3 separate regions of the Homo sapiens genome follow, and all the other regions are linked to region 1. Evidence: fine-mapped expression QTL. A gene starts in region 1. Each other region holds a variant in brackets. All regions are shown on one strand. Distances are between the middles of the regions.

Region 1 (10,859 bases):
TGAAAAAGAGCTTTCTTTGGAAACATTATCTTGGGATTGAAGCATTACCAGTAAGTCAGAACCAGTTGTGAAGGGCTTTCTCCTTTGGTCTGGTGGTGGATCTTAAACACTATGCAGAAGGCTGAGTTAGTGAATGAGTGTGTGTTTCTGTACATGTGCACACACACATTTCTTAGTGAAATGGCCCATGGTTTTCATCATACCTCAAAAAGGTATATGGTTTCAAAAAGTTTAAGAACTGATTATCTTGACATCAGGCAGGAGATTCTGGACCCCAAACTTTTTCTCACTCTAGTTCACGATTCTTCAGTAGTTTCTGAGATGGAGAATATTGGAGGGTACAGATCCTGGACACCAAACTGAAAACTGCGTTGAATTCTGCTCCTACCGCTTCCTAGCTGTGTAAATCTGGGCAAGTTCTGTAATCTCCCAGGATCTTATTACTCATCTGTAAAATAACCATTTTGTAGAGTTTCCATGAAAGTTAGATAATGTGTATAAAACACCCATCACATTCCAACCATCTATTAAAAATTTCCATAAAGTGGAGACATCATATTACCTGACTTCCAACTATACTATAAGGCTACAGTAACCCAAAGAGTATGGTACTGTCACAAAAACAGATACACAGACCAAGGTACAAAACAGAGGGCCCAAAAATACAGCCACATACCTTCAACCATCTGATCTTCAACAAAGTCAACAAAAATAAGCAGTGGAGAAAGGATTCCCTGTTCAGTAAGTGGTGATGGAATAGCTGGCTAGCCATGTGTAGAGGATTAACACTCGACCCCTACCTTTCACCATATACAAAAATTATCTCAAGATGGATTAAATATTAAATGAAAGACCTCAAACTATAAAAATCCTAGGAGAAAATGTAGGAAACACCATTCTGGATATCAGTCTTGGCATAGAATGTGTTACTAAGTCCTCAAAAGCAATTGCAACAAAAAAATTGGCAAGTGGGACCTAATTAAACTAAAGAGCTTCTGCACGCAAAAGAAACGATCAGCAGAGTGGACAGACAACCCATAGAATGGGAGAAAATATTTGCAAACTATGCATGGGACAAAGGTCTAATATCCAGAGTCTGAAGGCACTGAAACAACGCAATAAGCAAAAGAACAACCCCAGTAAAAAGTGGGCAAAGGACATGAACAGACACTTCTCAAAAGAAGACATGCGAGAAGCCAACAAACATATTAAAAAATGCTCAGCATCATTGATCATCAGAGAAATGCAAATCAAAACCACAATGAGATACCATCTCCCACCAGTCAGAATGGCTATTATTAAAAAGTCAAAAAGCAACAGATCCTGCTGAGGCAGCAGAGAAAATGGAATGTTTATACACTGTAGGTGGGAATGTAAATTATTTCAGCCACTGTGGGAAGAAGTTTGGGGATTTCTCAAAGAACTAAAAATAGAACTCCCATTCGATCCAGCAATCCCATTACTGGGTATGTATCCAAAGGAAAATAAACCATCTACAAAAAAGACACAAGCCCTTGTATGTTAATTGCATCACCGGTCACAATTGCAAAGACATGGAATTAACCTAGGTGCCCATCAGTAGTGGACTGGACAAGGAAAATGTAGTACATAGACACCACGGAATACTATGTAGCCACAAAAGAACGGAAGCATGTCCTTTGCAGCAACATAGATGCAACTGGAGGCCATGATCCTAAGTGAATTAATGCAGGAACAGACATGCAAATACTGGATGTTCTCACTCATAAGCGGGAGCTAGACACTGGGTACACATTGAGATAAAGAAGAAATGAGACACTGGGTACACACAGAGATAAAGAAGGAACAGTAGACACCAGGGCCTGCTAGAAAGGTGGGGCAGGGAACAAGGGCTGATAAAACTGCTTATTGGGTGCTATGCTCACTCTCTGCGTCTTTCATACCCCAAACCTCAGAGTCACACAATATGTCCATGTCACAAACCTGCACGTGTGCCCCCGAGTCTAAAATAAAAGCTGAAATTATTTTTTAAAAATTTGCCACAAAGTGCCTGAAAAGTATTATCATAAAAATTGTCCTCAGGCATCTTAAGAAGGAAGAAGAGGCCGGGCGCGGTGGCTCACGCCTGTAATCTCAGCACTTTGGGAGGCCGAGGTGGGCGGATCACGAGGTCAGGAGATGGAGACCATCCTGGCTAACACAGTGAAACCCCGTCTCTACTAAAAATACAAAAAATTAGCTGGGCGTGGTGGTGGGCGCCTGTAGTCCCAGCTACTCGGGAGGCTGAGGCAGGAGAATGGTGTGAACCCGGGAGGGAGAGCTTGCAGTGAGCCGAGATTGCACCACTGCACTCCAGCCTGGGCAACAGAGCAAGACTCCATCTCAAAAAAAAAAAAAAAAAAGAAGAAACTTGTTTAATTATTTTGTTGAGCACAAAGTCCAAATTCTCTGTTACTTAAATATATCAAAATAGGAAGAAAGCCATTGAGTCAGGCCCAAGGATCAAACACACAACTCCACTGTCCACTTTTCAACGTGGTGTGTCAACGCTGGCCTCATCCTGCAGCCGCGGTGACGGTGAGCCTCGGCGGTGCTCTGTTCTGATTTTGTCAACTCTGCCGATGTGGTTTCCTTTCTATATGGCTCACAGGTTTGTGAAGCTGCAGAACTTGGGCTAAAAACCTGGGATTGATGTGGGGATCCTGCATCATTTTTCCGTAGGTTGAAGGGAACAAGTTAAAAGGAAGATGCAAGTCATCAGAATGAACAAGCCAACAAGAGGACAGAGACTCCAGAAACCTGGGGAACTACAGATTCTCGGGTCCAGCCTGGGGGTAGTCTAAAAGGAAAATCACACAGAACTTACCTAAGAAAGTCCAGGTGAACGGTGAAAACTCCTGCTCCCATGATTAAGTAGAAACTAGGAGAAAACATTAATAAGTGACTGGCAGGTGACTGATGATGTGGGGTGATTCTCAGAGTATGAACAGTGACCTGAGTTCAGTCCCAGATGATACTCAGAGTGATGGCAGAGGGGATTTCTGGAAGTCACTGCATCAACAAAGAGATATTTGACTAAACTTATGCTTGGCATATTGAGATGGGAAAATAGCTGACAAAAAGTTTTCTGGCTAAACATGAATTAGCCAGAAATAATAACTAAATTATATCATTTCTATAATGAAAATAAAATCCTTTTGCAGTTTTAGCATAGTAAAATAAATAAAAAGGAAGCCAATACTCATGATAAAGCATTTTGCTAATGGCCTAAGAGGGAAAGTTAGTTTAGAAATGTGAAAACAGCTGGAGTCTTTGGTAATTAGTTTCTCTTGCTGTTCTTTATTGTAACTTTCATCAGTGACAGGCATTTAAATTCTGAATGCATAAGCCACATTTTAGAATGGGCCCTGCATCACTTTTTAATTAAAAAAAAAAACAAAAAAACCTACATTTCCAAGAGAGGGGAACTTCTTCCTGCATCCTAGAGGAACTCTCTGGAAAGTATAGAGCTGATCACTTCCTGTCTTAACTTTGAACTGAGTGAATTACTTTTCTATCCTTTCTAACATGACAGCTCTCTGGCATTCCTGCCAGTAATAACTTTCTTGGAGACTTACAAATAAAAGACAGACATAACTCTTTCCCAGTGTTTTAAATAAATGTATTGTTTTTCTCCATAAAAATGGAACCTGATTATCTCTCCAAACTCCATTTCTAGAATTTTGAGAAACTAAAATTTGGCATTCAGGACACATGAGCTCCTCCAGATTTGAAAGGGGTTTCAAAGGCTCCAAACCTGCCTCATCTGTCAGAGTTTTGGACAAATGCATTTCATTTATCTTCCTAGAGTTCCCAGAGGATTCTGGAGTTGCTACATGAAAGACGTGTTGGGATTCTTGAATACAAGGCACGGAGGGCCAAGGATTTTCTTCTGTTCTCCATATTGCCAGAGGAAGTGACATGGATTTGCCAGTATTGCAGGTTTTAACATCTGCATTCTGTTTATGATTTTGTTGCTTAGGAGATCTGGCTAAGACATTTGGCCCCTTTGACTTTTGTTCCTCATCTGTAGAATGGGAATAATTAAGTCTGCTTCTTGTCTGCCATTCTTGCAGCGGACGATGGTGGATAAATGAACATGCTTTCAAACTTTTGAGTTCTGACGAGCAGTACTCTCAACAAAGTGGAAAGTGAAAAACAGGTTCTTTAGTAGCAAATACTTCTTAAAGGAAGTATGTCAGCTTCGAGTGTAAATTTTATTCTTTGGATAATCTTAGAATTAGTGGTATGTAGTGTTTATTTTCTTTTTACTTTAATTTTCACTGCAGTTCCCTAACAGTGATTCCTATTTACTTAATCATTTGCAGCTGCTCTGCTCACCTGTTTTTCTGGACCCAGGAGCAGTCCCTCAAGAGTTTTATTATAATTTCCTTCTAAGTCCTTAAACCAGGAGGAATGTGTTTAAGTGCTTAATAGATTCCCTGGGCTTTGGAATTTTAAGGAGAATTCTGAGAGTAGCCCTCCTTCAGGAAAAGGTGCATTTCTTTCCCGTCTTTCCGTGGCCCGACGGACATCACTTTCCTGATAAAATTGTGTGGGAAAGGTTGCAATAGCATTGCCTTTGCCTCAGCAGCCAGTCCCAGAACTTGCTGATACAGCCCCCTCCCCCAAAGTTCATAGCCAAAGCAGTGGGCTAGACATCGGATGAAACCTCAGATTTGGATTTTCTGTGTTTTGTGCTTTTCCCAATGCCCCTGACAAGTCAATTGATTCATTGTTCTTGAACAAATCTTCACTCTTCTGGCTTTCTGTGTGAGACAGAATTAGGGCTTTTTCCTGTAAAGTTATAAGCCAAGGCTAAACTATGTCAGCAATGTTGTCTGCAGTGGATATTATCCAGAGTCTGGGTGTGCAAAAATTTCCTGGTTTCCAACGTAGTCTTCGTGGGTGAGTTTACAACCTCCACAAGCCCTGTGCTCCCCGCACAAACACCTGAAATGCTTTGACAGAGCTGTTTAAAAACAGCCACATGTGTCTGTGAATGATGCCCAACCACATGCTCCCCCGACTTGAGAGGATCAAGGCTACAGCCCAGGTCAGACCCCGGATCTTTAGGACCTAAATTCCCCCATCCCTGCAGTGGATAACCCCGTGTAAAGATGCCAAAGGCGGGCTGCCCCCGGCGCAGCCTTTCCTGGACATGTGTTCCCAGCTGCCTTTGCTGGAGCGCCGCTGATCCTTCAGCACCTCTGAGAGGCAATGTTCTGGGCTGGACCAGGGGGCCTTAGAGGGCAGAGGTCAAGGAGAACCCCGGAGTCTGGGGACCGGCCAAGGCTTGGCGTTAACCTTTGTGGATGAAAAGTCCCGCTGGGCTGATCCTGCGCGGACCGGGCCTGGACCCTGGGGCGTGAGGAGGGCGCGGTGCGTCCCGTGGTTGTGCTTGGAAGCCCCCCGAGGGTGCGCGCGCGTGGGTATGAGTGCGTGCGTGTGCCTGGGTGTGCGTGTGTGTAAGTGTGCACGTGTGTGTGTGAGAGTGCGCGCGGGGAAGGAGGCACAGAGACAGCCCGGACAGGCCACTGCGCAGCCCTGGTGGCCCCCGCTCCACCTCTCGCTCCGCAGACCCGCGCCAGGGAGGCCTCTGGGCCGCAGCGGGCACCGGAGCGGAGCGGGCGCGGCAGCGGGCGCTGGGAGGTGGGGCTGGGGGAGGAGAGGGGGAGGGAGAGAGGCGGGCGGGAGGGGAGGATCCGGGAAGCTCCGGGGTATTTGACAGGAGCGAGGGCGGACGCAAAGAACGCGGAGGACCTCTGGGTGCCTGCAGGGGAGCTGCTCCAGCCGGGCCGCCGGGAGCGGTGGGGAGAGCATCGCGGAGCCGCCCCTCCACGCGCCCGCCCAGCCGCGCTCGCCCACTGGGCTCTCCCGGCTGCAGTGCCAGGGCGCAGGACGCGGCCGATCTCCCGCTCCCGCCACCTCCGCCACCATGCTGCTCCCCCAGCTCTGCTGGCTGCCGCTGCTCGCTGGGCTGCTCCCGCCGGTGCCCGCTCAGAAGTTCTCGGCGCTCACGGTAAGCCCGGGCCCGCGGGACCTGGAGCTCAAGTGGTGCCGCCTCTTGCAGCCGGCCGGGTTCGGGTCCCCGCGCCCCGCTCCAGGCCCAGGCGCCTGGGCACGGGGAGCAGGTGGCCCCGGGGGCCGTGGAGCCTTCGCCTGCCGGCGAGGCTGGAGCAGGTAGGACGCAGCGTGCGCGCCTGGGACCCGGCTGGGATGGGCTTCTGGGGACCCTGCCCGCCGGGGTCCTGCTGCGGCTGCGACGGGCTCCTCGGGTTCCACCCGGCTGGGACCCCACCTGCCTCGGGGGCTCTGACCCGGCTGTGAGAGGATCCTGGGGTCCTGCAGACCCCGGACAAGTGGGAGCTGCGGGTGCGCTCGGGTGTCCCGCACTCACTGCTGGGCCTGAGCCTGTGGGGAACCAGGTCTGGGAGCGCCGGCGCCGCCCCGCGGACTGTCCCAAGGCCAAGACAGACCCGCCGGGACTGGGCGCCCACCTCGCCCACGGGGACCCGGCCTGGAGCGTGTTCTCCCGACCGCTTTGGGCTCGTGCGCCGCGCGGATCCCGGGCCTCTCGCCGGCTGAAGGGGCTGCCAGTCGTGGGCCCCACTCGTGGGTCTGACTCTCCCAGAGACCCTCGTAAGTGAGCCGAGGAAGAAGCAGATGAGGTTACAGATGATTCTTCACGGGCCTGAGTGTTATTAGAGAAGCGCTTTCTTCCCTTCTCAGGACAGAACTGGAGGCAGGCGGCGGCTCCCCGCTCTGCGGGGCCTCTGGGTTCTTCCTCGTGGCAGGGATGCTGCGCTCCTGAGCGCGAGGGTCACCGCGGTTGACCGCTGTGTGTTTTTCTTTCTGAGCTGTAACTTCTATGCGACAGCCTTGGCCCGGCCAACGCACGCGGTGTCAAACGAGGAGCTATGTAGAGGGGGCTGAGCCAAGCCCCCGCCGGCCAAGCCAACCCGCGGCGGCCGCTGGGCCAAGGCCGGGTGTCTGCAGCCCCCAGCTCCAGCCGTCCTCCTGGGCTTGCAGGGTTTGCAAACCCATCATTAATGCAATCGCCAGAAACGAAAACATTCCACTTAAATGTGTTTTTGAACAAGTGTTTGAGAAAACACGAAGGTAGTGAGAACGCCTCTGGTGGACAGCCGTCTTTTTTAAGTGGCCGGGGACTTGTCCTAAAGGTGTTTATTGTATTGAAAATAAAGATGGTTGAAATAAGCTGTGGTCGGTTCTGCCTTTCAGCAAATTTAAAACAGTCATGTGGGCATCTTTTCTTTTTCTTTTTCTTTTTCTTCGTCTTCTTTCTTTTGCGTTTTAGCAGTGTGAAGGATGGTTTGTGAGTTCATTGCTCATACCTCAAATTCTTCTGCAGCAGCCCGGGGTCCCTGCCTTGTGTCTCACAAATGACTTGTAGATTAGAAACTGCTAACTGGGGCTCCAAGGAGGTTTTCACACACTCAGGCTTTCCCTGAAGATCCTTTATCTCCCCAGAGGGGGCCCTCAGAGGATACTCACTGGAGGCATTCATGTATATGCACATCTGTACATGCATCTAGACATAAATATACTCACGTATACACTCACAAAAAGACCCCCCACATACTCTTAAAGCACACTAGAGGAGACAGAGAAACTAAGGCCAATTCTCCAAAGGAGATCATAGCATTTTCTTCCAGGACTGTAGCAGCAGGTACCTACAGTTGCCACGGATTTTCAGATTTTCTGAAAGCGCAAAAAGTAGAGACTGCCATCTGCCTGCTGCCCTGTGTGTGTGGGGGGTGGGGTTGGGCCTGTTGGTCCCCCCTGGAAGAGCAGAATCAAGGTAGTTAGTAATTAGAACAGTTTAAGACTCGGCAGGTTTTCTTGTCTTCTCTCCCCTGTCTCATCTAACTATTTACTTGAACCCTCTCACCTTTTGCCCCCTTGAGGTTGCCCCAAGGATGTCTTGGGTTGCGGTGAGACCCGCTGCATGTGGGGTCTCTGTGCAGGAGCTGATACCCCACGTGGGCTTTGCCCTGTTGGCTGCATTCCCCAAGAACAGTTTGCCTGAAATTTACATTTGCAAATAAAATCAGTATCCCGAAGAAAAGATTAAAGCCATAACACATTTTGGCACACTTCTTCTCACCCCACCCCCAGTCTAGAAAATCAAGAAGTAGTTGAGTTACAAAGTAACTGAGGCAGGCCTGAAATCTGACTGGTCGCTGGGAGATGTGAGATGTGCAGGATTTTTCAGTGTGCTCATCTCTTTTCAAATTGCCTTCTGGTTTTTGGAAATCTCTTTTGTCTCCGGAGGCCCTCATTCAAAGAAGGGCCTTCTCTCCCTACGATTTGCATCCTACCTACTTTAATAAATCAAGAGGCAGTATCAGTCCATGCAGTGGGTGGGACCCACAGCTTAGGGTCTTGCTGGATGTGTGACTTCAGGCAAGTTACTTAATTTCATAATCTTCAGTCCCCTTATCTGTAAAATGAGAATACATAATCTCTTTCAAGCATGTGGTGAGGATTAAAGGTAGGGCTTTTAATGCGCCTACTATATGTGAGTTCTCCAGCTAACATTGTTTTGATGGTGCCCATGCCGTGGGTCCGTATAAGAGAGTGCTATCAATTGATACCGTAATTATCAATGCATATAGCGTTGTGGCATTAAGGTGTGTGTGGATTCAACTTTGCAGTATTTTCACCTGCCGCAGATTCTCAGAGCACACCACTTGGCTCTGGGTGTATCTGTGGACTTTGTGGGAGTAGCCATGTGGGACTCTATAGACCAAGGAGGAAAGCTTGCCTCTCTGCCTCCTTCTACTCCATTCATTTCTTCTCATCTAGAAGCAGGGAAATATGTCAGCCTCTCTGGGGCTTTCAGTTTGCCATACCTGGCTTCTCAGGACCACGCATTTGTCTTACTCACCTATGGTGAGTGTGCTTTCTTGGTGGGTCCAGCATTGCTGGTGTGCTCACCTCTGCTACTTTATGTTTAAGATTCAGAGAATCCACTTTGTCTGGTAATGATCTCTCTTCTTTCCACCAAAGTCATTCTTTAGAAATGGCACCATGAGGCCCTCTGTGTCTCTCATTGTGACTTTCTGATGGCTTTGCACAACTTCCTGGTTATTGCTCAGACCCTCTCACCTCCAGTCAACAATGGCATTCTTAAGTGTGTCCAATGCGCTCTTAATTTGGATGCAGGTCAATTTCTTCCTTGAAGAAGGAGGTACATTGAATGCCACACCGTGCCCATTTTCCTTTTTATTTCTGTGAATGACTGAGATGAGGGAATGATCTCTAGTATAAATGGTTTTTATTACACATAATTCTGTTTTCAAAGAGCAAACAGGCGTGATCACAATTACTCAACTTTATCATGGTTGTCATTATATGAATTTTGATGGACTGATCCATAAGCCCATACCTAGGTGATTTCTTTAAAGGCAGAGAGAAGAACAATATTGCCTGGGACCCCTTTCCCAGAAGTTTTTGGTTAGAGCCAAAGTATTCATTCCCATGTTGACTAAATCATATTTTGCTCACACTTAGAATGTTGAAGTCACATTACCATCCTTCTCAGACTTCTCTTACTGCCAATACCTAACGCTCCCCTAAGGTCATACGCACGACTTCGTTAAAGGTACCGTTGTCTCCACATTCAAGAGATGAGGAAACTGAAGTTTTGAGAGACTCTGAAGGGCACCTGGTCACTAAGCAGATCCGAATATTTCTCAAGTCATCCTGCCATTATTTTTCTTTCTTCGTGGGAGTTCCCTGCACTGTTTTTTGCACTGTCTTCAGGAACTTTACAATTCCACACTGCCGTTTCACCTCTCAGACTGTAGTTGACTTTCATCCTGAATCCTCATCTTCTCACAGAGGGTCTGGCACCTGGTAAATGCCTCTTATTGGTCTTGTGGAATGCATGACCACAGACCTGAAACAGTTATTTCCCACTCCTATTTGTGTTTATTTGCTTTGAAAGAGAAGAAAGGTGATAAGAAAACAATATTTAGCCATGTGTAATTTTTTTAAAGTTTCATTAGCAAGTTCATGAGATGATTTAATATTGATTTTGCTGAAACAGCCAAAATAAAAATGCTATTCCATTTCTGAGCAGTTGTGGTTTGGAATGCGTACCTCATCCTGTTTTGATATAGTTCTCACTCAGCCTTGGATCTTCAAGGGAATTACTGTGATTTTTTTTCCTTTCTTCTTCCATTGCAAATGCCTTGAGTCCATTTCATGCTCTGGGAGGGCTTCTACTGCATTCCCCAGTAGAAGACGGACCACGAAGGTGGTTAAGGAGGAGAGAACTAAACATAATCAAAATTTTCCAACTTAGAAGCCCATTTACATGGCGTCTAAAAACCCAAACATCTGGAAGAATCACTTTAATTTTGCTGTGAAATCAAGACCGTAAATAACACTATAAGCAATTGCAGTCCCTAACAAGACCATGCAGCCAATGGGCATGGATGTAACGTCAGTTGCAATGGCTCAGAACCGAACAGATTTCTCAGTAATTCTATATCAAAATAAGCCTTCTTGCCAATCCAGGATCTTAGAATGGGGATTGTTATTAAGATTGTCAGCAGAACATTGGTTTGGAGGTCAAGGGTAACATTTATATATTTTTGAATTAGAAGATAAACTGGGCCGGGCGCAGTGGCTCACGCCTGTAATCCCAACACTTTGGGAAGCCAAGGCGGGTGGATCATCTGAGGTCAGGAGTTCAAGACCAGCCTGACCAACATGGTGAAACCCCATCTTTACTAAAAATACAAAAATTCTCTGGGTGTGGTGACACGCACCTGTAGTCCCAGCTACTTGGGAGGCTGAGACAGGGG
Region 2 (10,859 bases), 180 kb after region 1:
GATTCAGGCTCGTAGGCCCTCGGCGCGGCAATGCAAGAGGCCATCGGCACAACCTTGTCAGAGAGGAGATGCAGGCGAAAGACAGAGGTGCAGGGAGATGCACCTGTCCAGAGCAGAGCAGGCCCAGTCGCCGGCAGGTTCAGGGCAGGAGCATCGGCCAAGGAGAGTTGGCTCGAAAACTTACAATGGAGACTTTGATCTAAAGTGAAGTCAAAATAAGTGATTTCATGGCCTAGAGTGCAGGGTTTCCTCTCACCTTTCCTGATCATGCAATTGTGTCTTTCACTCTCGGATACGGTTTTCCGGCTGACTCTCATTCTCAGGACCAATCGTATTCGAATGAGCAGACTGGCTTTCCTCTGGGCGTTGCTTCATTTCAGTCTACACTGGCAGGGAACGCTCACATTTTCGTCATTGTGACGATCTGCGCTGCGTGCAGTCTGATCTCACTCTCAGGCACTGTGGTCCAGGCCACCCCAAAGGCAGCACAGGAGCTGGGCCCTGGGGGTCAGGAAGGTGCAGGGGAAGTCTGACGTATCCTGTGAGCCATTCCTTCCTCCACCAGCTCAGGTGAAAACAGCACTGTCTTTCTGTGGGTGTCCTGATGTTGGTGGTTCAGCAGTGGCACCAGTGTGAGGACAGAGGGGGCGGCATGAGGAGCCCCTTGGGGAGCCTGGGCATGGCCCCTCTGTTACTGCCCTGTACCCCAAGCCAGGGTCCTCTCCTGGATCCCCAGAGCTCTTCCGCCTGGCACACAGTCTAAGAAATGGTCTTTATTTTGGTCAAACAGCCTCTCACCCAAGTGTTTCTGGAAGCTCTATGGACCCAGCAGACTTCATGAATGGTCAAGGCCTCTCCCTAAAGGGCATGGCACAGTGCCTCTTCACATCTACAGCCAGCACAGGGGGCCTCTTCACACCTACAGCCAGCACATGGAGCCTCTTCACACCTACAGCCAGCACAGGGCCTCTTCACACCTACAGCCAGCACAGGGCCTCTTCACACCTACAGCCAGCACAGGGGGCCTCTTCACACCTACAGCCAGCACAGGGCCTCTTCACACCTACAGCCAGCACAGGGCCTCTTCTCCTAGAGCCAGCACAGGACCTCTTCACACCTACAGCCAGCACAGGGGGCCTCTTCACACCTACAGCCAGCACAGGACCTCTTCACACCTACAGCCAGCACAGGGGGCCTCTTCACACCTACAGCCAGCACAGGGCCTCTTCACACCTACAGCCAGCACAGGGGGCCTCTTCACACCTACAGCCAGCACAGGGCCTCTTCACACCTACAGCCAGCACAGGGGGCCTCTTCACACCTACAGCCAGCAGGGGGCCTCTTCACACCTACAGCCAGCACAGGGCCTCTTCATACCTACAGCCAGCACATGGAGCCTCTTCACACCTACAGCCAGCACAGGGGGCCTCTTCACACCTACAGCCAGCACAGGGGGCCTCTTCACACCTACAGCCAGCACAGAGCCTCTTCACACCTACAGCCAGCACATGGAGCCTCTTCACACCTACAGCCAGCACAGGGCCTCTTTATACCTACAGCCAGCACAGGGCCTCTTCACACCTACAGCCAGCACAGGGCCTCTTCATACCTACAGCCAGCACAGGACCTCTTCATACCTACAGCCAGCACAGGGCCTCTTCATACCTACAGCCAGCACAGGGCCTCTTTATACCTACAGCCAGCACAGGGCCTCTTCACACCTACAGCCAGCACATGGAGCCTCTTCACACCTACAGCCAGCACAGGGCCTCTTCACACCTACAGCCAGCACAGGGCCTCTTCACACCTACAGCCAGCACAGGGCCTCTTCATACCTACAGCCAGCACAGGGGGCCTCTTCACACCTACAGCCAGCACAGGGGGCCTCTTCACACCTACAGCCAGCACAGGGCCTCTTCACACCTACAGCCAGCACAGGGCCTCTTCACACCTACAGCCAGCACAGGGCCTCTTCACACCTACAGCCAGCACATGGAGCCTCTTCACACCTACAGCCAGCACAGGGCCTCTTCACACCTACAGCCAGCACAGGGCCTCTTCACACCTACAGCCAGCACAGGGCCTCTTCATACCTACAGCCAGCACAGGGCCTCTTCACACCTACAGCCAGCACAGGGCCTCTTCACACCTACAGCCAGCACAGGGGACCTCTTCACACCTACAGCCAGCACAGGGGGCCTCTTCACACCTACAGCCAGCACAGTACCTCTTCACACCTACAGCCAGCACAGGGCCTCTTCACACCTACAGCCAGCACAGGGCCTCTTCATACCTACAGCCAGCACAGGGCCTCTTCACATCTACAGCCAGCACAGGGCCTCTTCATACTTACAGCCGGCACAGGGCCTCTTCACACCTACAGCCAGCACAGGGGGCCTCTTTACATCTACAGCCAGCACAGGGGGCCTCTTCACACCTACAGCCAGCACAGGGCCTCTTCACACCTACAGCCAGCACAGGGCCTCTTTATACCTACAGCCAGCACGGGGCCTCTTCACACCTACAGCCAGCACGGGGCCTTTTCACACCTACAGCCAGCATGGGGCCTCTTCACACCTACAGCCAGCACGGGGCCTCTTCACACCTACAGCCAGCACAGGGCCTCTTCACACCTACAGCCAGCACAGGGGGCCTCTTCACACCTACAGCCAGCACAGGGCCTCTTCACACCTACAGCCAGCACAGGGGGCCTCTTCACACCTACAGCCAGCACAGGGCCTCTTCACACCTACAGCCAGCACACGGCCTCTTCACACCTACAGCCAGCACAGGGTCTCTTCATCTTCATACTTACAGCCGGCACAGGGCCTCTTTACATCTACAGCCAGCACAGGGCCTCTTCATACCTACAGCCAGCACAGGGGGCCTCTTCACACCTACAGCCAGCACAGGGCCTCTTCATACCTACAGCCAGCACAGGGGGCCTCTTCACACCTACAGCCAGCACAGGGCCTCTTCACACCTACAGCCAGCACAGGGGGCCTCTTCATACCTACAGCCAGCACAGGGTCTCTTCACATCTACAGCCAGGAGCATCTTTTTTCTTGGGGCCCCAAGCAATTGCTGGCATAATTATCGTCTTTGACTCATGTAGAAACCTTAGAGGCAACACCTGGATTTTTCAGACACGATTTTAGCACTATTCTAATTTTTTGAAGATTAGTTATGGTTTTCTGAGAGAGCATAAAATGAACCTTACCTTGCCCTAAGTGGAGCTTAGGACATTTTCCAAAAGGTAGTTAGATCAGGAGCAACACATTCCTGCCAGGTATCATGTGACATGTAAGGACCTCGGTGTTTACCTTTTCTACAAAGCAGACAGGAGCCGGCCAGGACCTCGCTTGGTGGCCTTTGAGAGCCTCACAAAGGTGACACGAGGTGTCAATATTCTGCCCACTAAAAATGTCTACTTCTGTGATCCCTGCTGTCATATCAAAGACTGAATTTACAGACACGAGTCTTCTAAATTTTAGCTGAGCTGGGAACAAAGCTTCAGGCTTTAGAAACATACTACTGTAATTCTGGGGATGTGAGTAGTTAGGTGAGCTATCTGCACTCTGTGTCCATACAGGCTCACGCCAGAACCAGCTGCTCAGGGCACAGGCTCAGACTCTCCATGACCCATGAGGCTGGGACAAGGACTGGGTGTTGAGGAGGCTGGGATGCGAGGCTGTCTGTGAGAGAGGATTTTTAACCTGGCATTCTGCTTTTGAGAGCTGTCTGGTGGCATGATACCTAAAGAACATCAACTCAGCCTCATGGGTAGGGCTGGGGAGTCCCAGATATGGCAAGAGACCGTTCCACATGGCACCACTTGGAAGAGAGAGCTGAATCTACATTATTTTATTTTTTGACCACTAAGTTGGATGTCTAAATATGAAATTTGCCCATGAATAAGATTAGTAACACTTTTGAAGGAAATTGCAGTTTTTAGGAAGCGTAACAGTGAAATGGACCATTAAATCAGTTTTATTGAGAAAAGACTGCTGCAAATAAAAACTCAGAAAAACCACACATATAATTGCCATCCCAGAGGCATCATAAGACAGGAAGAGCAGGGACAAGGGGTGCCGAGGAGTCAAGCGGTTGGGAAAAGGTGGTTTTCAAGAACCGGTGTCTGTGGAGCATCCCGAGATGCCGCTGCACTGCGGGGGGGTTGCAGGGAGCTCCTCCAGCAGCTGAGGGAGCCCACGCAGGTGCAGGGACACAGGTGAAGTGAGCGTTTCACTCAGCGCTTGCCTTTTCTCCTGGGAAAGAAAGTGGACAGGATGCACCCTGCAGAGGGCACCGGAGAGATGAGAACTAAGAAGGAGCGATATGGCTACTCTTGCAGCAAGGCCAGCAGAATTCTCAGTGGGATTTTATTACAATATTTCTTTTGGCTGATATTTTGTCTTCATGTTTGAGAGTAAGGAGACATTGGAGGTTTGGGGGAATGTGGGAATTCATCATTCTCAAAAAAACAAGAACAGGAATAGAGAAATTAAATAAACAAAGGCGTTTTATTTTCCTCAACATGTAGAGGAAAGACTAACAAATGTCTAATTATGTACAGGAGGGTGCTGGGCGCTTTTTCTGTTTATTAATTGATACTTCAACAGCTGAGTGTGAATAACTGAGCAGGGTGGCTGTTTCTCACCGACGTGGCTGAGCAGGAGCTTTTCTCACACCCAAGGACGGGTCTCCCAGGGGCCCAGGGCACTGCATTCGTGGACTCTGAAGACGGGGCAGGAAGCTGGAGCTATAGTTTCTCCCATGACCTTTCAAGCAAAAGTTTAGGACTCTGATGGGCCAGGGGCACTCCACTCTTGTCCCGCACTCACATCCGCTTGGACAAGTCCTGTCTCTGCTCCAAGCTCTCTTGCATCTCGCTGGCTGCCCCACTGCTTCCTCCAGGCGAGTTTCCAAATAGACTGTAAGTAGATTCTGATCCCCATCCATGCAGCAAGAAGAGGTGTCTGGAAACCCCAGATCTGGCCTGTATTGCTTCCCATCATCAGGGTCTCCTGGCTCCAGATTAAATGTGAACTGCTTGTTGTGACCGATGGGGCCCCTCCTGGCCTTACCCCAGTGCATTTTCTGTTTTCTTCTCTCCGCCATGCATGGGACTGTATCTCGCCTGATTGCATGGCCTACTTGGAGAGGCGGGGGTCGCGTCCAGCGCCTCGCTGAGGGGCCATGCCTCCAGCACACAGGACACAGGTCATTTCCCTGAGAGGCATGCTGACATGGATTGCCAGGTTTATGGGGTCTGCCAGGGATAAAATAATCTGAGATTTTTAACCCACCCATTTATTTCCCATCCAAGAAAACGGATCTGTCCTATGGCGTGTTATTAGCCGCAAGGCTGCCTGCATGGGAGTGGCCTGGACCATCGCCCCAGGGCCCAGTGCTCCAACAGGACCCTCGGTTTATTGCTGTGCTATCACCACGATGAAATAATTAATTTTTAAACGCGAGGCCTCCGTGCTCCATTTTGCACTGAGCCCTACAAACAAGCCGATCATGATTAGTAACAACACACAGCTTGCAATTCACTGGGCATCCAATGGCAAAGAGCCAGCGTAGTGGCATTAAGAGGCGAGTCAAGGAGAGGCAGGTAGTGGCATTAAGAGGAGAGTGGAGGAGAGGCAGGTAGTGGCATTAAGAGGAGAGTGGAGGAAAGGCGGGTAGTGGCATTAGGAGAGTGGAGGAGAGGCGGGTAGTGGCATTAGGAGAGTGGAGGAGAGGCGGGTAGTGGCATTAGGAGAGTGGAGGAGAGGCGGGTAGTGGCATTAAAAGGAGAGTCGAGGAGAGGTGGGTAGTGGCATTAAAACGAGGGTCGAGAGGTGGGTAGTGGCATTAAGAGGAGAGTTGAGGAGAGGCAGGTAGTGGCATTAAGAGGCGAGTCAAGGAGAGGTGGTAAAAGAGTTAAGACAAGGCCAGGGAATGACGATGGAAGGGCTAGGAATGTCCCGCATGGGGTGAGCACAGATGCAGACAGGAAGACGGTGCGCTCAGGACATCAGTAGCCCAGCTTAGGCGATGGGGAAGGTGACATCGTCTCCTGCAGGGACTATGGGCTCTCGACGCAGCAGGCACACGGGCATCCGGTCTGGGAGAGACAGCGATGGC[A/G]GGAAAGCTGGAGTGCCCTTCAGTCACTACTCCACAGACTCCACTAAACTGGGAACCAATTTCTGAAATTATGGGCTGCATTTTATTTGTTTATTCAATATAATAAGACAATAAATATCTTAATCTTAAAATACCCAGGAATTTGCTAGAATATCAGAGAACCAAGTGTTAGATGACCTATGACCTGACACAAAATGACCCTCAGCACGGATCGGAGAACTTGAGTTCTGAGCAGCGCCGGTGACCGCAACAGCACATTGTTGAGTTATTTTAGAAGCAATGTGGCTTGTTTTTGTTTATGGTTTCCTTTAGAGCCAGATTTTTAAAGATAAAGTGCCATTTAAAAAATTCCCAAAGACAGCAGGGAGCATTCTGAACGACAACAGGACAGTCAGCTCTGGCCAGTTTAGCCTGCGTTACTTTGAAAGTTATGATTATGCAGAAGAGAGATGGAATAAAGTTTAGATTTACGTTCATCATGAAAAAGGCATCTGCCAGACAAATTAATAGTGTAAGCAATATTTCAGAGACAATTTAAATAACTTGAGAACAAACTGGTCTCCAACACTATCAAATATATTAAATTAATTTCTAAACAATTGTTATTCTATTGCAAATAATTCCTAACTCTATTAAAGCAGTTTATCCTAAATGATTAACTACTTTAAAAGCCTTCCAAGTACGGTATACACTTAAAAATAACAAGTATGCTTTTAACTGGCCTACAGTGGTTAGTTTAGACTTCCCTCCTATCTTTTCTGAATTGATTGAGGCTCTACCATAATCAAATTAAAACCTCCTATAACGCAAGTCTCACTTACTTCCCGTTTGCCGCTGACTCAGGCAGGAAACCACCGTGGTACTCCTGAAAGCGCCCTTCTTTCTCAGAGGCTGTGCACTTCAGGTGAGACCACAGTGAGGCCAGTCCGGACAGAGGGGACTCTGCCTGGAGTCGGAAGGTCTCCACAGCCAGCTGTCCCTTGTGTAGCCAGTGCCTGCCATGGTTAGAAAGCCCACAGCTTCAGTTTACACGCTCTGTGTCTTGTGGCCCTTTTACTCTACGTACCAGTCATGGTCACTGTGCTCCGGCAGGCCGTTGTCCAGCTCGCTCTCAAGGTTCCGGACACACGGGCTCTGTGCTCCCTGAGGTTGGCAGTCACTGCCTTCAGGTCTTCAGATCCCCTGCACCAGGTTGCTCAGGCATGAAACACACAGCCCTACCTGCGTGTAATATTTGCCTGTGGTCTCTCCCCTCCACCAAACCAAGCAATTCAGATGCCTTGAGCGTTCTTTAGCTATCGGTATTTCATCTCTTCACTGAATCATGTTTATTGTTTTCACTTGGAAGCGCTTATCTTCCTGATTCCCCTATGTCTTTAAACCCAACGCTGGCAGAATACTAAGACTGCATGGTGCCTTCTCTGCTTTACCTTCTCATGAGAATTACAAATCCCTTTGTTTTCTAATTTTGCAAGCAAGTATTTATTACATGCCTGTTGCATAGGTGGTGCTTGCCAATGTTCTGGGAGATGCAAGTCAATAGAGATCCAGCTCCCGTACTCTGGAGCTGAGACCTGGCTGTGAGGATTGCAGGTTTATGACCCTGGGATGAATGCTCTTGAACAAGAAAGCCACCTTATTTCAGTTTGAAATATTGGGAAAATGGAGACTGATATATAGGAAAATTTTCCCTATGTCTAAAAATATTATGGTAGAATTCTTGTAAACTCTTTTCCAGACTTGTACCAATGTCAAGAACATTTCACCCTCACCCTAGATAGCACCCTTTGAGTCAGGGAACCGCAGACAGCATGGGCAGCACTGACACTGTGCGGAGAGAGGAGTGAACGTGAGAAATCACTTCTGCAGGAGAAATTAATTCCAAGGGGGATCAAGACAGGGAAAATCCAATTATCCAGGTTGGATATTGGCCAGAGCACTGCGGTTATTACTTCTAGAATAAAGGCAAGACTAATAGAAATGGCCCAGCTGATAGGAGCAATTGAGTTATGTTCTTCCTGATAATTCCTTAAGAATTTAATTGGACAGACTAAGGCTGCAGTGCCCAGATGCATCAGCCGCGTGTCAAACTCCTTGGACACCCTGGATGACCAACCAAGGTCGAAAACTTCTCAAAACCTGGCTTGTGATGAATAACCACAGGCTATGGAAACCCCTAGGATGTTTTCTCAGACAGCATGATTTACTTTTTTTCTTAGTTCTCTTCTAACTTGTCAAATTAAGGACAATCTTTCAGAAACGTCAGAGGTTTCCCTCTGACAGAGAAGGATAAATGGACTGCCCATTAGTTGTTAATTCGCTTTGAGAAATTCCTGAGATAAATTGTTCAAGTGTAAATTTCAGCAGACACACTTTAGTGTTTTGAGTTTCTGTCCTATTTATGCATCTTTTCTCTACGCTTTTCCTGATGTAATCAACTTACTTGAAATGTATAATCCCCTTATTTCCAGAGGAGAATAGTATTAGTCCCAGTGTCAGATTTCTGATTTTAAAAACGTCTCCTAAGGAACACACATTATCTGCCATGAAGTGCTACTTTTTGGAGCAGTCTTTGATATGCTCTTTAAAAATGTATTTGAAGTCCATGTTTTATTTACAATTTTGCTCTGTTAAGTAGTAACCCGCTTGTACTAGTTTGTTTTCATGCTGCTATGAAGAAATACCCAAGATGGGGTAATTTATAAAGTTAAGAGGCTTAACTGATTCACAGTTCCACATGGCTGGGGAGGCCTCAGGAAACTTACAATCATGGCAGAAGGGAAAGCAAACATGTCCTTCTTCACATGGCAGCAGGAGAGAGAAGGGGAAGTGCCAGATGTTTATAAAACCATCAGATCTCACGATCTCACGCGGACTCACTCGCTATCTGGAGAACAGCATGGGGAAAACCACCCCCATGGTCCAGTCACCTCCACCTGGTCCTACCTTTGACATGTGTAGATTATGGGATTACAATTCAAGGTGAGATCTGGGCGGGGACACAGAGCCAAACCATATCACCACTCATTGCGTTACACAGGGGTAAAATTGTTTATTCAAAGGCAGCAGAATAGCATTGTTGTCTTTGGAATTTCTCTAATGGATTAATCTTCTTTTTTTTTTTCTTGAGATGGAGTCTCGCTCTGTGGCCCAGGCTGGAGAGCAGTGGCATGATCTCGGCTCACTGCAAGCTCCGCCTCCCGGGTTCACGCCATTCTTCTGCCTCAGCCTCCTGAGTAGCTGGGACTACAGGCGCCTGCCACCACGCCTGGCTAATTTTTTTGTATTTTTAGTAGAGACGGGGTTTCACCGTGTTAGCCAGGATGGTCTCGATCTCCTGACCTCCTGATCCACCCGCCTCGGCCTCCCAAAGTGCTGGGATTACAGGTGTGAGCCACTGCGGCCAGCCTCTAGTGGATAAATCTTTTTGAAGCAAAGAATGGAACAAAATGAATCTTCTTCCACCATGTGGCTGCACAGGAGTATCAGAGCCTGTTCTGGCTTGGGAGGCTGCCGGATTCATGAATTGTTCATTGTTCAATTAAACTCCTTTACATTAAAAAAAAAAAGACAAGGATAGTCCTGTGCCTCTCCTGGTGCCTGGCAAGTCTCCCCTTTGTTCTCGCCATGGCATGTTGTGTGTTGACATTACTCTTTATTGTTTAGAGCCCTGGCTTTTCTTGCACGTACCATTTCCTGACAGGCAGACCTAGAGTCCATGTGTGCTCGGTTTCTTCCTGACCACTTAACTAACTCAGCAGAGGTGAGACTGTTGCCGTGTCAAGAAAGTGACAAGAGCAGGGCTGCCTGTCTTGTCTTCCCACTGCTATTTCCAAGCCCTTTCCACCCTGAGATGCCATTTCTCTAATCCACACTTCCACAGAGAGCCTCCTTCACAGGGGGGAAGCTGAGGTACAAAATGCTTTACTGCAAAAGTAGATGCCTTTTGTGCCTGGTGCCTGGCATCCATAGAAGGGACAAGGTACAGGACGTGCAAGGCCACTCTCGGAGACCGACACCATGCCCACATTTCTCCAAGGAGAGGACAATCTGTAGAAAGCCGGATGTACTCGGGCTGAGTGTGGGATTGAACTTCCGAGCAGTCAGCCTTAGTGCACACTGGGAAGGGCATGCAGTGGTGTCTTTTCTGGAAGCCCCTCTGGGTAGGGGAGTTTCTGACTTCCGTAGCTTGTCCATCTGGACAGTGAGTTAGCTCTGCTGCTACATAAATTTAAGTAAGTGAGATGATCTGTTTAATTCTGTTCGTGCTCTATTGTCCAGGGTATCTCTATAGAAATGCTCTAAATATAGGAAGCCCAAGAAGATAGTAGAGATTGAGTCAGCAAACCAAGGTCAACATGCAATACTCTAAAAGGACAGAGCAGGCTGGAGGGCTGCGGGGATTCCAGTCAGGCCCACTAAGGCATTTGGACCATGTCCTGCAAGGGTTTTGGCTGAGACATGGATAATTAATTTTTTTTTTTTTTTTTTTGAGACAGAGTCTTGCTCTGTGACCCAGGCTGGAGTTCAGTGACATGATCTTTGCTCACTGCAACCTTCCCGGGTTCAAGCAATTCTCCCGCCTCAGCCTCCGAGTAACTAGGACTACACACCACCCCACCTGGCTTATTTATTTATTTATTTATTTATTTATTTATTAGTAGAAACAGGGTTTCACCATGTTGGCTAGGCTGGTCTTGAACTCCTGACCTCAAGTGATCCAC
Region 3 (10,859 bases), 460 kb before region 1:
CCATCCATTTTCTAGGAGTCACATGAAAAAAGTAGAAAGAGGTGTAATAAATTGTGATATATTTTATTTTGCCTAATATATCCCAACAGCATCATTTCAACATGCAATCTATACATAAAATGCATTCAGATTCTCTACATTCTTTTTCATGCAGCGCCTTCAAAATCCAGGCCGTCTCATACCCACAGCATTTCCCCGACTGCTGCGTGCTAGTGCTGGACCGTGAGTGACCAGAGAAACCACTGCATTAAAATATGGGGGTCACTCCCCCTGCAGTGTGTGTGTGGGGAGCAGGAGGCAGTGGGGGTCATTCCCCCTGCAGTGTTGGGGGAGGAGAAGGCAGTGGGGGTCATTCCCCCTGCAGTGTGTGGGGAAGGAGGAGGCAGTGGGGGTCATTACCCCTGCAGTGTGTTGGGAGGAGGAGGCAGTGGGGGTCATTCCCCCTGCAGTGTGTGGGGAGGAGAAGACAGTGGGGGTCATTCCCCCTGCAGTGTGGGGGGAGGAGAAGACAGTGGGGGTCATTCCCCCTGCAGTGTGGGGGGAGGAGAAGACAGTGGGGGTCATTCCCCCTGCAGTGTGTTGGGAGGAGGAGGCAGTGGGGGTCATTCCCCCTGCAGTGTGTTGGGAGGAGAAGACAGTGGGGGTCATTCCCCCTGCAGTGTGTTGGGAGGAGAAGACAGTGGGGGTCATTCCCCCTGCAGTGTGTTGGGAGGAGGAGGCAGTGGGGGTCATTCCCCCTGCAGTGTTGGGGGAGGAGAAGAAGGCAGTGGGGGTCATTCCCCCAGCACTGTGCGGGGAGGAGGAGGCAGGACTGTGCTCGCCCCTCCCCTTCCTGGTTCAGGTCCTGCTCCTGGGACTCAGCGCTGCGCCTCTGGGAAGGGCCGGTCCAGGAGCTCCGCAAGTTGCGGGAGAACCTGGCGGGTCCGTGGTCCAGCGAGGCCTGGGATTCAGAAGGGATGAAACGTTCCTCGACGCTTGAACACCGGCCTCCTGCCCCTGGGTCTTCCTGCTATTTCTTCCTGCCCCTCGCTCCCGCCTCGAGCCACCCCCTCGTGCTCCCCAACGCCCGCTCCTGTGCTGGTCACTGGGGGCAGTGAGAGGAGGCCAGAAGCAGAGGCGATGCCGGCGGGGAGCGGGCGGTGGGGGGGCTTCTGGGAGCGACGGACCCGGCAGCTGCAGAGCCCAGTGCGGCTGAGTGGGGGGAGGGAGGAGGGACCCCCCTCAGAGGCTCCACGCGGAGGCCTGGGAGAATCGGGTGGGCTGGAGGCTTTCACTGGATGGTAGCCAGCTTTGGACGCAAACGTCCCACGTGACCTGTCCCCTCTCGTCTAGGCTTCCAGGACCTAGGGGTGGTGGACCTGCTCTGTCCTCCCACCCCTGGACTTCCCTGGTGATCTCCTCTCCCCTCCCACCAGGGACCTCCTACCCCCTTCCCCCTCCCCCCTCCCACACCGGAGCCTTCTCTCCCCTCCCACCCGGGACCTCTTCTCCCCTCCCACCCGGGGCCTCCTCTCCCCTCCCACCCGGGACCTCTTCTCCCCCCCATCCGGGGCCTGCTGTCCCCTCCCACCCGGGACCTCTTCTCCCCTCCCATCCGGGGCCTCCTCTCCCCTCCCACCCGGGACCTCTTCTCCCCTCCCATCCGGGGCCTCCTCTCCCCTCCCACCCGGGACCTCTTCTCCCCTCCCATCCGGGGCCTCCTCTCCCCTCCCACCCGGGACCTCTTCTCCCCTCCCATCCGGGGCCTCCTCTCCCCTCCCACCCGGGACCTCTTCTCCCCTCCCATCCGGGGCCTCCTCTCCCCTCCCACCCGGGACCTCTTCTCCCCTCCCATCCGGGGCCTGCTGTCCCCTCCCACCCGGGACCTCTTCTCCCCTCCCATCCGGGGCCTCCTCTCCCCTCCCATCCGGAACCTCTTCTCCCCTCCCATCCGGGGCCTCCTCTCCCCTCCCACCCGGGACCTCTTCTCCCCTCCCATCCGGGGCCTCCTCTCCCCTCCCACCCGGGGCCTCCGCGGCTTTTAAAACTGTCTGCTGTGTGCTGTGCACGTGCTGGGAGCACAGTAGCGAAGCCGGGACAGATAAAGTTCTTCTAGTCACTGCCCTCTTGGAGTATACCGTTGAATCCGGGAAGTAGATCAATGAAATAAACACAGAATGGTTGTAAAATACAGAACGCTGGGAAGTGGAGGTGCGTGGTCTTACCCGTGTTTATAATTCAGCCGTCGCCTAACCTGAGAAATCAAGGATTTCTGCGTCGTGCGCGTGCCCGCTGAGCTGAGCTCTGCTGGGATGGGGAGTCCTTCTCCGGCTGGAGGCTGAGGGCAGGAGCTCTCGGTGAGAGGCTGCGGCCAGCGGTGCTGTGAGCCGGGCGGGGGTCAGCGCGGGCGGCCGGGGCGAGGCTGACAGCACAGCAGGGGCCGAGCTCCCCCGGGTCAGGCGGGACCAGGAAGGGATCATCCTTCTTTTGAGGGCACGGAGCCACCGTCGGAGGGCCTGTGAGAAGGGTGGGAAGCTGAGATTACATTCCTATTCTGAAAATGTCACACTGTGGAGGGCGGTGGTTCAAGCGCAGTAATGGCCATGGAGGGAGAACACCGCCCGGGGACACCCGGGGTGGCAGGGACCGGAGCCCCGGAAACCTGAGCAAAACGCGCAAAATGGGGAAAACCACCCAGGTTTTAATGGAAATTGTGCGAACAGCTGTCAACGAAGAGTCAAACTCTGTAAAATATTTGAAGAGATTTATTCGGAGCCAAATATGAGTGACCACAGCCTGTAACACGGCCCTCAGAAGGTCCTGAGAACGTGTGCCAAGGTGGCCGGGGCACAACTTGGTTTTATACAATTTAGAGAGGCAGGAGACATCAATCAAATACGTTTAAGAAATACATTGGTTCTGCCCAGAAAAGCGGGACAACTCAAAGGGCAGGGGGAGGGCTTCCAGGCTCTAGGTAAATGTAAACACTTTCTGGTTGACAATTGGTTGAGTTTCTCCGAAGACCTGGGATCAGTAGAAAGGAAATGTTCAGGTTAAGATAAAAGACTGTGGAGACCAAGGTTCTTTTGAAGCCTCATAGTGGCTGCCCTTGGAGACAATAGGTGACAAATGTTTCCTATTTAGATCTTTAAAAGGTGCTAGACTCTAGTTCATTTCTTCAGGATTGGGAGGGCCTGGAAGAAAGATCTAGCCATGTTAACAGAGATTCTTTACAGATGTACACGTCTCCCAACAACGGACAGCTCTGCAGGACCGTTTCAAAATATGGCAAAGAAACATGCTTTTGGGGTAAAATATTTTGACTTTCTTCCTTGTCTCGTAATGTTATGCACGAGTCAGGTTTGGAAAGCAAGTCACAATATATAGGGTTAAATAAAACCCATCTGATAAGAATTTATGATTTGTAGGGCATGACTCCCCAGACCCCTTAGATAGGAATTTGAGTAAGAGTTAAAAAAAAATCAGAGCATAGTCCTCACAGCAAAAATCAGATGACAAATATTTATTCAAGAAAGTCTGCTGAAACTCCCTAAGAATAATGATCATCTGTGGCTCCCTCCTTCCCCCACCCCAGCTCATCTTGACAGAAGCCCCACTCTTGGTGGTTGTGGCCAAGGAGACAGGGCTCGCTCTCCCCTCAGCTCCCACCCGAGGGTCCCCTTATCTCACCAGGAGGGACAGATGCCAGCATTTCTCACCCCAGCACCCAGTTGAAGAGGCTAAATTCCTGGTGAGCATGACGGACAGCCCCCTTCCTCCAGCCAGTCCCTACTCATCGGATGGGGCTCTAGCCCAAGAACAGCGGGCTAAGAAGGCTGGGATCCAGTTGCTGTGCCCAGCTCCACTGTAGGACGCAGTTCCGTAAAAAGAGGCAAACTGAAAAGACCAGAGAGCAGGGCAGTCCACAGGGAAGAAAAGGTTGCTCTGAAGCTCTTCCCAAAGGAACTGGCTTTATTGGAAACAGCGTGGAAACATTCAAGCCTGAAGGCATGCTCTGAAATGATTGTTCCTCTTAATTAGGAGCAATGAATTGGTCTGTGAGGGCTGCCAGAACAAAGCACCACAGACTGGGGGCTTAAACAACAGAAATTTCTCCCTCACAGTTCTGAGGCGGAAGCGTCTGAGCTCAAGGCGTTGGCAGGTTTGGTTGCCTCAGAGGCCTCTCTCCTTGGCCTGTGAATGGCCCCCTTCTCACTGTGTCCTCACGTGGTCTTTTTTCATTCCTTGTGTCTCTGTGTCCAGATTTCCTCCTCTTGTAAGGACACCAGTCACATTGGAATACGGCCCACCCCCATGGACTCATTTTAACTTAATCACCTCTTTAAAGGGCCTATCTTCAAATAGAATCATGTTCTAATACGCTGGGGGTTAGGACTTCAACATACGAATTCGAGGGTAGAGACACAATTCAGCACATCATCAACAAACTAATTCATAGCCCTGCTAGGTTGCTAGAGAGAACCAAGGTGACACTAAGAAGAGCCCTCGGCTGGGCGCGGTGGCTCACGTCTGTAATCCCAGCACTTTGGGAGGCCGAGGTGGGTGGATCATGAGGTCAAGAGATCGAGACCATCCTGGCCAATATGGTGAAACCCCGTCTCTACTAAAAATATAAAAATTAGTTGGGCGTGGTGGCACACACCTGTAGTCCCAGCTACTCGGGAGGCCGAGGCAGGAGAACCATTCGAACCCGGGAGGCAGAGGTTGCAGTGAGCTGAGATCGCGCCATTGCACTCCAGCCTGGTGACAGAGCAAGACTCAGTCTCAAAAAAAAAAAAAAAAAAAAAAGCCCTCCTGGAGCTAAAACAAACCTCAGAGACTGGCCTTAAAAAATGTTCACTGCTGCAGTTTAATTGGACCAGACATTGAAGAAATGTATGCCCAGGTCATTACTGAAAATCATAGAGCAATCAGTTAGTAATTAATGGAGCTTAACAGGTAGATATGATACCGCATGAGGTAGATAGCTTAACAGAGGGATCAAGGAAAGAGATAGCCAGTGTCCCCACCAAAACCACCACAACCCAGGCTGGCTGCGTGCATGCCCAAGGCTGAGTCCTCCAAGGAACTACCCCAGAGGCTTCACACTGCAGGGGAAATAAGCTTCACTGAAATAGTCTAGCCAAGTGACTCAACAAATAAGCAAAACAACAAAACCAAGCTACAGAGAGGGAAGAGAGGAATCAGCATGTAGTTTGTATACTGTTACCTAAAACATCCGATTTTCAACAAAAATGTAGACATGCAAAGACATTCAAAGAAACAGGAAAATGAGACATGAGGAAAACACAGGAAACAAAAGCTGCCTTGTGAGGGCCTAGATTTTTTTTTTAATTTGACTCTGACTAGCAGGAGGGCCTAGATGTTGAGTAGACAGAGACTTCAAAGCAGACATTACAGCCATGTTCAAAAAACTAAACAACACTGTGCTCATAGAAGTGAGGGAAACCATGACAATGTCTCATCAAATAAAAAAAAATACAGAGATTGAAATTATTTTTTAATGATAATCCTGGAGCTGAAAATAACTGAAATGCCAAAAAACATCTGGCAGGGCTCATGAGTAGATTTGAACTGAAAAGTCAGCAAACTTTAAGATAGGTTGGTAGAAATTATGTTATCTTAAAAACGGAGATAAAAATAGATTGAAAAAAAGGAATAGAACCTCAGAGAAATATGTGAACCCTTTAAGCCCCCCAGCATATGCATAATGAAAGCAAAAGGAGAGAAGAGAGATAAAGGGGCAGAAAAACATTCAGAGAAATAATTGCTGAAAACTTCCCAAATTTGCTTAAAAATGTGAATCTCTCAAAGAAGTTCAATGAATCCCAAAAGTAGGATAAATACAAAGAGATTCACACTCACACATGTCATAGTACAAATGTTTGAAGCCAACATGAAAATCTTGAAAGCAGAAAGTGGGAACGAGTTGCCGTGTACAAGAGAACCCAAAAGGACTGATGGCTGTCTTCTCCTCAGCAATGATGGAAGTCAGAGGGCAGTTGATACGGTTTGGCTGTTTCCCCACCCAAATCTCATCTTGGATTCCCACTGTTGCGGGAGGGACCTGGTGGG[C/A]GGTAATTGAATCATGGGAGCAGATATCTTTCCCATGCTGTTCTCGTGATAGTGAATGAGTCTCACGAGATCTGACGGTTTTAAAAGGAGGAGTTTCCCTGCACAAGCTCCTTCTGTCTCTCTCTGTCACCATGTGAGGTGTGACTTTCCCCTTCTGCCATGGTTGGAAGGCCTCCCCAGCCACGTGGAACTGTAAGTCCAGTAAACCTCTTTCTTTGGTAATTTGCCCAGTCTTGGGTTTGTCTATATTAGCAGCATGAAAATGGACTCATACGGCAGTGGAGTGAGATGTTCAAAGTGCTGAAAGAAAAAAAAGCTGTCAATCAAGAGTCTTATATCTGGCAAAACTGTCTTTCAAAAATTAAAGCAAAATAAAAGCATTCTTCAAAAAAAAATCAGAGAGAATTTCTTGTGAAAAGGAAATCCCTCAGGCTGAAAGCAAGTGAAACCACAAGGAAACTCAAATCCACAAAGAGCATCAGTAAAGGTAATTATATAATTATAAAAGACAGTAGACATGTATATTTCTTCATTTTCCTTCTCTTAACTGATTTAAAGAACAGTTGTATAAGACAGAGTGTGTATAATTGTACTGTTGGCCCTGTAACATGTAGAAATGTAATGTATTTGACAAAAATAACACAAAGGATGTGATGAAGGCAAAGTTTTACTGGAGTCAGGAAAGGACGCCAGTGACTCGAATCCACAGGACCAAATGAAGAGAAACAAACATGGTGAATAAAAAGAGAAATAGAACTTGCATATAAATAAATATGTATCCTCCTTCCTTTTCTCACCTCCTTTAATGAACATGAAATTATGTAAAGTCATAATTATAACAATGTATTATATTTATAACATATATACATATAATGTGTATAACTATAATAATATAAAAGGAGGGAAGAATACACCTAACAACAGGGCTCCTGAACTAGTGAGACAAAAACCAACAGAATGGAAGAGAAATAGGCAATTCAAAAACAAGGATGGCAGACTTCAATACTCTACCTGCAATTATGGGTAGACCAACTAGATAGAAAATCAGCAAGTAAGCAGAAGACTCAAAGAATGCGATAAACTGAACAGACCTAACAGACACCTGTAGAACACGCTACCTAACAACAGAATTGAAAATTCTTCTCAAGTGCGCATTGAACACGCTCCAGGATAAACATGCTAAGTCATAGAACAAGCCTGAATCATATATGATTTATATCCTTTAAATGTATTCAGGCTTGTTCTGTGACCTAGCATGTTTATCCTGGAGCGTATTCAGAATAGAGTTAAACTCACTAAACAAATTCGGCAAGGTTGAAGAATATAAGATCAATATACAAAAAGCAAATGTATTTCTATACTGTAGAAATGAACAACTGAAAATGAAATTAAGAAAACAATTCCAGCCAGGCATGGTGGCTCATGCCTGTAATCCTAGCATTCTGGGAGGCTGAGACAGGAGGGTTGCTTGAGGCCAAGAGTTCAAGACCACTCTGGCCAGCATATCAAGACCCTGTTTCTATTAAAAAAAAAAAAAAAAAAAAGGCTGGGCACCGTGGCTCATGCCTGTAATCCCAGCACTTTGGGAGGCCAAGGCGGGTGGATCACCTGAGGTCAGGAGTTCGAGACCAGCCTGGCCAACATGGCAAAACCCCATCTCTAATAAAAATACAAAAAATTAGCTGGGCGTGGTGGCGGGTGCCTGTAATCCCAGCTACTTGGGAGGCTGAGGCAGGAGAATCACTTGAACCTGGGAGGTGGAGGTTGCAGTGAGCCAAGATTAGGCCATTGCACTCCAACCCAGGCAACAGAGTGAGACTCTGTCCAAAAAAAAAAAAAAAAGAAAAAGAAAGAAAGAGAAAACAATTTCACTTACAATAGCATCAAAAATATCAAAACATTTCAGGATACCTTTAACCAAAGAAGTACAAGGTATAAGACTTAACAAGACTTTTACACTGAAAATGATGTTCACCATTATTAGCCACCAGGGAAAGACAAATAAAACTGCAGTGTGACACCACTGCTTGTCACAAAGAGGACTATAATAAAAAAGAGAGAAAATAACAGGTGTTTGAGAGTAGGTGGAGCAATCAGGATCCTCATGCAATTGTGTGGGAAAGTAAAACTAATGCTGCTGTTACCGGATGGGACATCTTGACTGTGAGTTGTCCAGGTTCTTGGTGCGTTGAACAAAGAACTGAACAAAATTGAACAAAGAATTGAACAAAATGTACAAACAAAGCAACAAAAGAAAGAAGCAACAAAAGAAAAAAGCAACAAAAGAAAACAGCAACAAAAGCACAGATGTATAGAAAGTGCAGATTTACTGAAGCGAAAGTGCACCCCACAGAGTGGGAGCGGGCTCAAGCAAGCGGCTCAAGATCCCCAGTTGCAATGTTCTTTAGGGCTTTTCTTAAGCGAAAAGAATTTGGTAACACCCCTGGGTGCCCTTTAGAGGCCTGTGACCAATCAGAGGCTGAAGCAGAGATGTGGCCCGTGGTCAGTCCGAGGCTGACGTGCAACTTGTCTGTCTTGTTATCACTGGAGGGAGGCTGTGGCCTGTGTGCTGCCCAGTCCTGCCTGGAAGTAGCTGCACCTGCTGTTCTTCTGCTTATGCCTTCACCCTTGGTTACCCGAATTCCCTATCCTCCTGCCTCACAGCTGCTTTGGAAGACAGTCTAGCAGTTCCTCAAAATGCTAGGTATATGCACCCGAGAGAACTGAAAACACTTCTCCACAAAGCTTGTACGTGAACGTCCTGGCAGCATGACTCTTAATAACCAAAGAGAAAACCTCAACGTCCGCCAGCTGATGAATGAATAAACAAAATGTTGTACATCCATACAATGAAATACTATTTGGCAATAAAAAGGAATGAAATTCTGATATTGCTACACATGGCTGAGCCCTGAAAACATGCAGAGTGGAAGCCAGACACGAAGGACCACGTGTTGTGTGATTCTATTTACATTAAATGTCCAGAATCGGCAAATAGAGACAGAAAATAGATCAGTGGTTTCCTGGCACTGGGGTAGGAAGTAGTTAGGAGTAATGTCTAAGGGTTTCTTCTGAGGAAGATGAACATATTCTGAACCTTTCTGGTGAGTCGCACTTGAAGGACACTAAAGCTTGCTGAACTGTGCACTTGAGATGAGTAAATTGTCTGGCGTGTGATTTGTACCTCAGTCAGGATATGGAAATGTTTTCAATTAATTCCAGAAAGAAGAAGCTGGCAGAGAGTGGTGGTGTCCGCTCCTGCAGTTGTCCATGAAGAGAGGGTGCCCTTTTGGAATTAAGTGGATTGGAGAGGAAATATTCCAGAGATTTCTTTTTAAGAGCTTAAATGGACTGCATATAGCAATGGGTAGCGTAGATCAGGGGTCCCCAGCCTCCATGCCATGGACTGGTACTGGTCCATGTCCTGTTAGGAACAGGGTGCACAGCAGGAGGTGAGCAGGGGCCAGTGAGCTTTCCCTCCTGAGCTCCGCCTCCTACCAGATCAGCAGCGACATTAGAGTCTCAGAGGAGCGTGGACCCTCTTGTGAACCGCACATGCGGCCATCTAGGTTGCGTGCTCCCTATGAGAATCTAATGCCTGATGACCTGAGGTGGAAGAGTTTCATCCCAAAACCACCCTACCCCCAGCCTGTGGACAAACTGTCTTCCACGAAACCAGCCCCTGATGGGAAAAAGGTTGGGGACCTCTGGTGTAGATGACTCCCAAGGCCTCAGGTCACGTCACCAGTCCCAAAGAGTTTGGAGTTACAAGTAAGATTGTCCTAAACTCATCACAGCTGGTTGTGGGCGTGTCAGCAGGCATGGGGGAGGAGGAGTCCCCGGCAGAGGACTGAACCCCCAGTAGGAGGGGCTGCACCTGAACCCCCTTCCTAAGAAACTGGTGGTTGTCTTTGCAGGAAATTCTCTGGTCGCTGGCTCTCTCCGTGTTCACTGTTGATAGGGTGATATGTCACTGCCCTACGTCAGACCCTCCAGTGCCCTCCCGTCTACGTGGGATCAAACCCGGGCTTGCACCTGGCTTGCACACACCCTGGCTGTTTCCCGGCCTCCTTCCCACCCCAGCCTCCCTCACCCACTCGCCGACCTCGCAGGCCTCTGCCCCGTCCTCAACACGCCACGCTCGTTCCCACCTCGGGGACTTCACACCGGCTGCTTCTGTGCCCCAGTGTTTCTGTGGTAGCCCTTAGCCCTCCCAGCCGGCCTCTCTGAGTCCCCTTCTGACAAGGAGTGGGAGGGTCCAAGCCCCCAGGTTCGGCTGCCACTGCTGGTCAGGGGCCACACTGGAGGCTGGAGAGGTGGTGGATGTGAGCGTGGACGGTGGGAGGGAAGCAGGGCCTGTCGGGGGTGGAGATGGCCTTTCCTCCCTGTCCTGCGGCGGCGGCGTCATCCGAGCCCAGCATCGGTCAGTTCCCATACAGTCAGGCATCGCTTAATGGCGGGGTTGTGTTCTGAGAAATGTGTCCTTGGACGACTTTGTCATTGTGGGAACATCGCGGGGTGCGTTTCCACGAACTGGGAAGGTCCCGCCTGCTGCTATCGGGTGCGGCCATTGCAGCCAGGCCACAGACCTGGGCAGCGCGGGACTGTGCCGCACACTGCGGGTGGCTGTAACACAACAGTGAGGAATTGTGCATCACGACACAGAAAAGCCACAGTAAAAATAAGGCACTACCATCTCAAGGGGCCCCTGTGAGGTACGAGGCCTGTCATTGACTAAAGCACAGCCGTGCAGCCCAGGACGGCAGTTCCTTGCCGAGGGCCCG

The links.
Region 2: its variant is fine-mapped to the expression of SMOC2 in esophagus muscle (GTEx, PIP above 0.99).
Region 3: its variant is fine-mapped to the expression of SMOC2 in skeletal muscle (GTEx, PIP above 0.99).

Annotation. Positions count from the first base shown.
Region 1 is chr6:168,435,415-168,446,273 of GRCh38, forward strand. SMOC2 (SPARC related modular calcium binding 2) reads left to right here and starts at 5,770. Exons shown (of 13, transcript NM_001166412.2): 1 at 5,770-6,040. The coding sequence starts at 5,957.
Region 2 is chr6:168,612,722-168,623,580 of GRCh38, forward strand. All of the region lies in intron 9 of SMOC2 (SPARC related modular calcium binding 2), which reads left to right. Among named protein-coding and RNA genes, the nearest start is that of SMOC2, 180 kb to the left of the region's middle. RefSeq lists enhancers at 234-403, 9,977-10,146 and a cis regulatory region at 319. The variant A/G (reference allele first, on the strand shown) is at 6,136.
Region 3 is chr6:167,975,876-167,986,734 of GRCh38, forward strand. HGC6.3 (a long non-coding RNA gene) reads right to left here and starts at 3,918. Exons shown (of 3, transcript NR_171011.1): 1 at 3,670-3,918; 2 at 2,205-2,495; 3 at 43-940. RefSeq lists enhancers at 1-129, 1,969-2,545, 2,546-3,122, 3,700-4,275 and a silencer at 6,140-6,340. The variant C/A (reference allele first, on the strand shown) is at 6,076.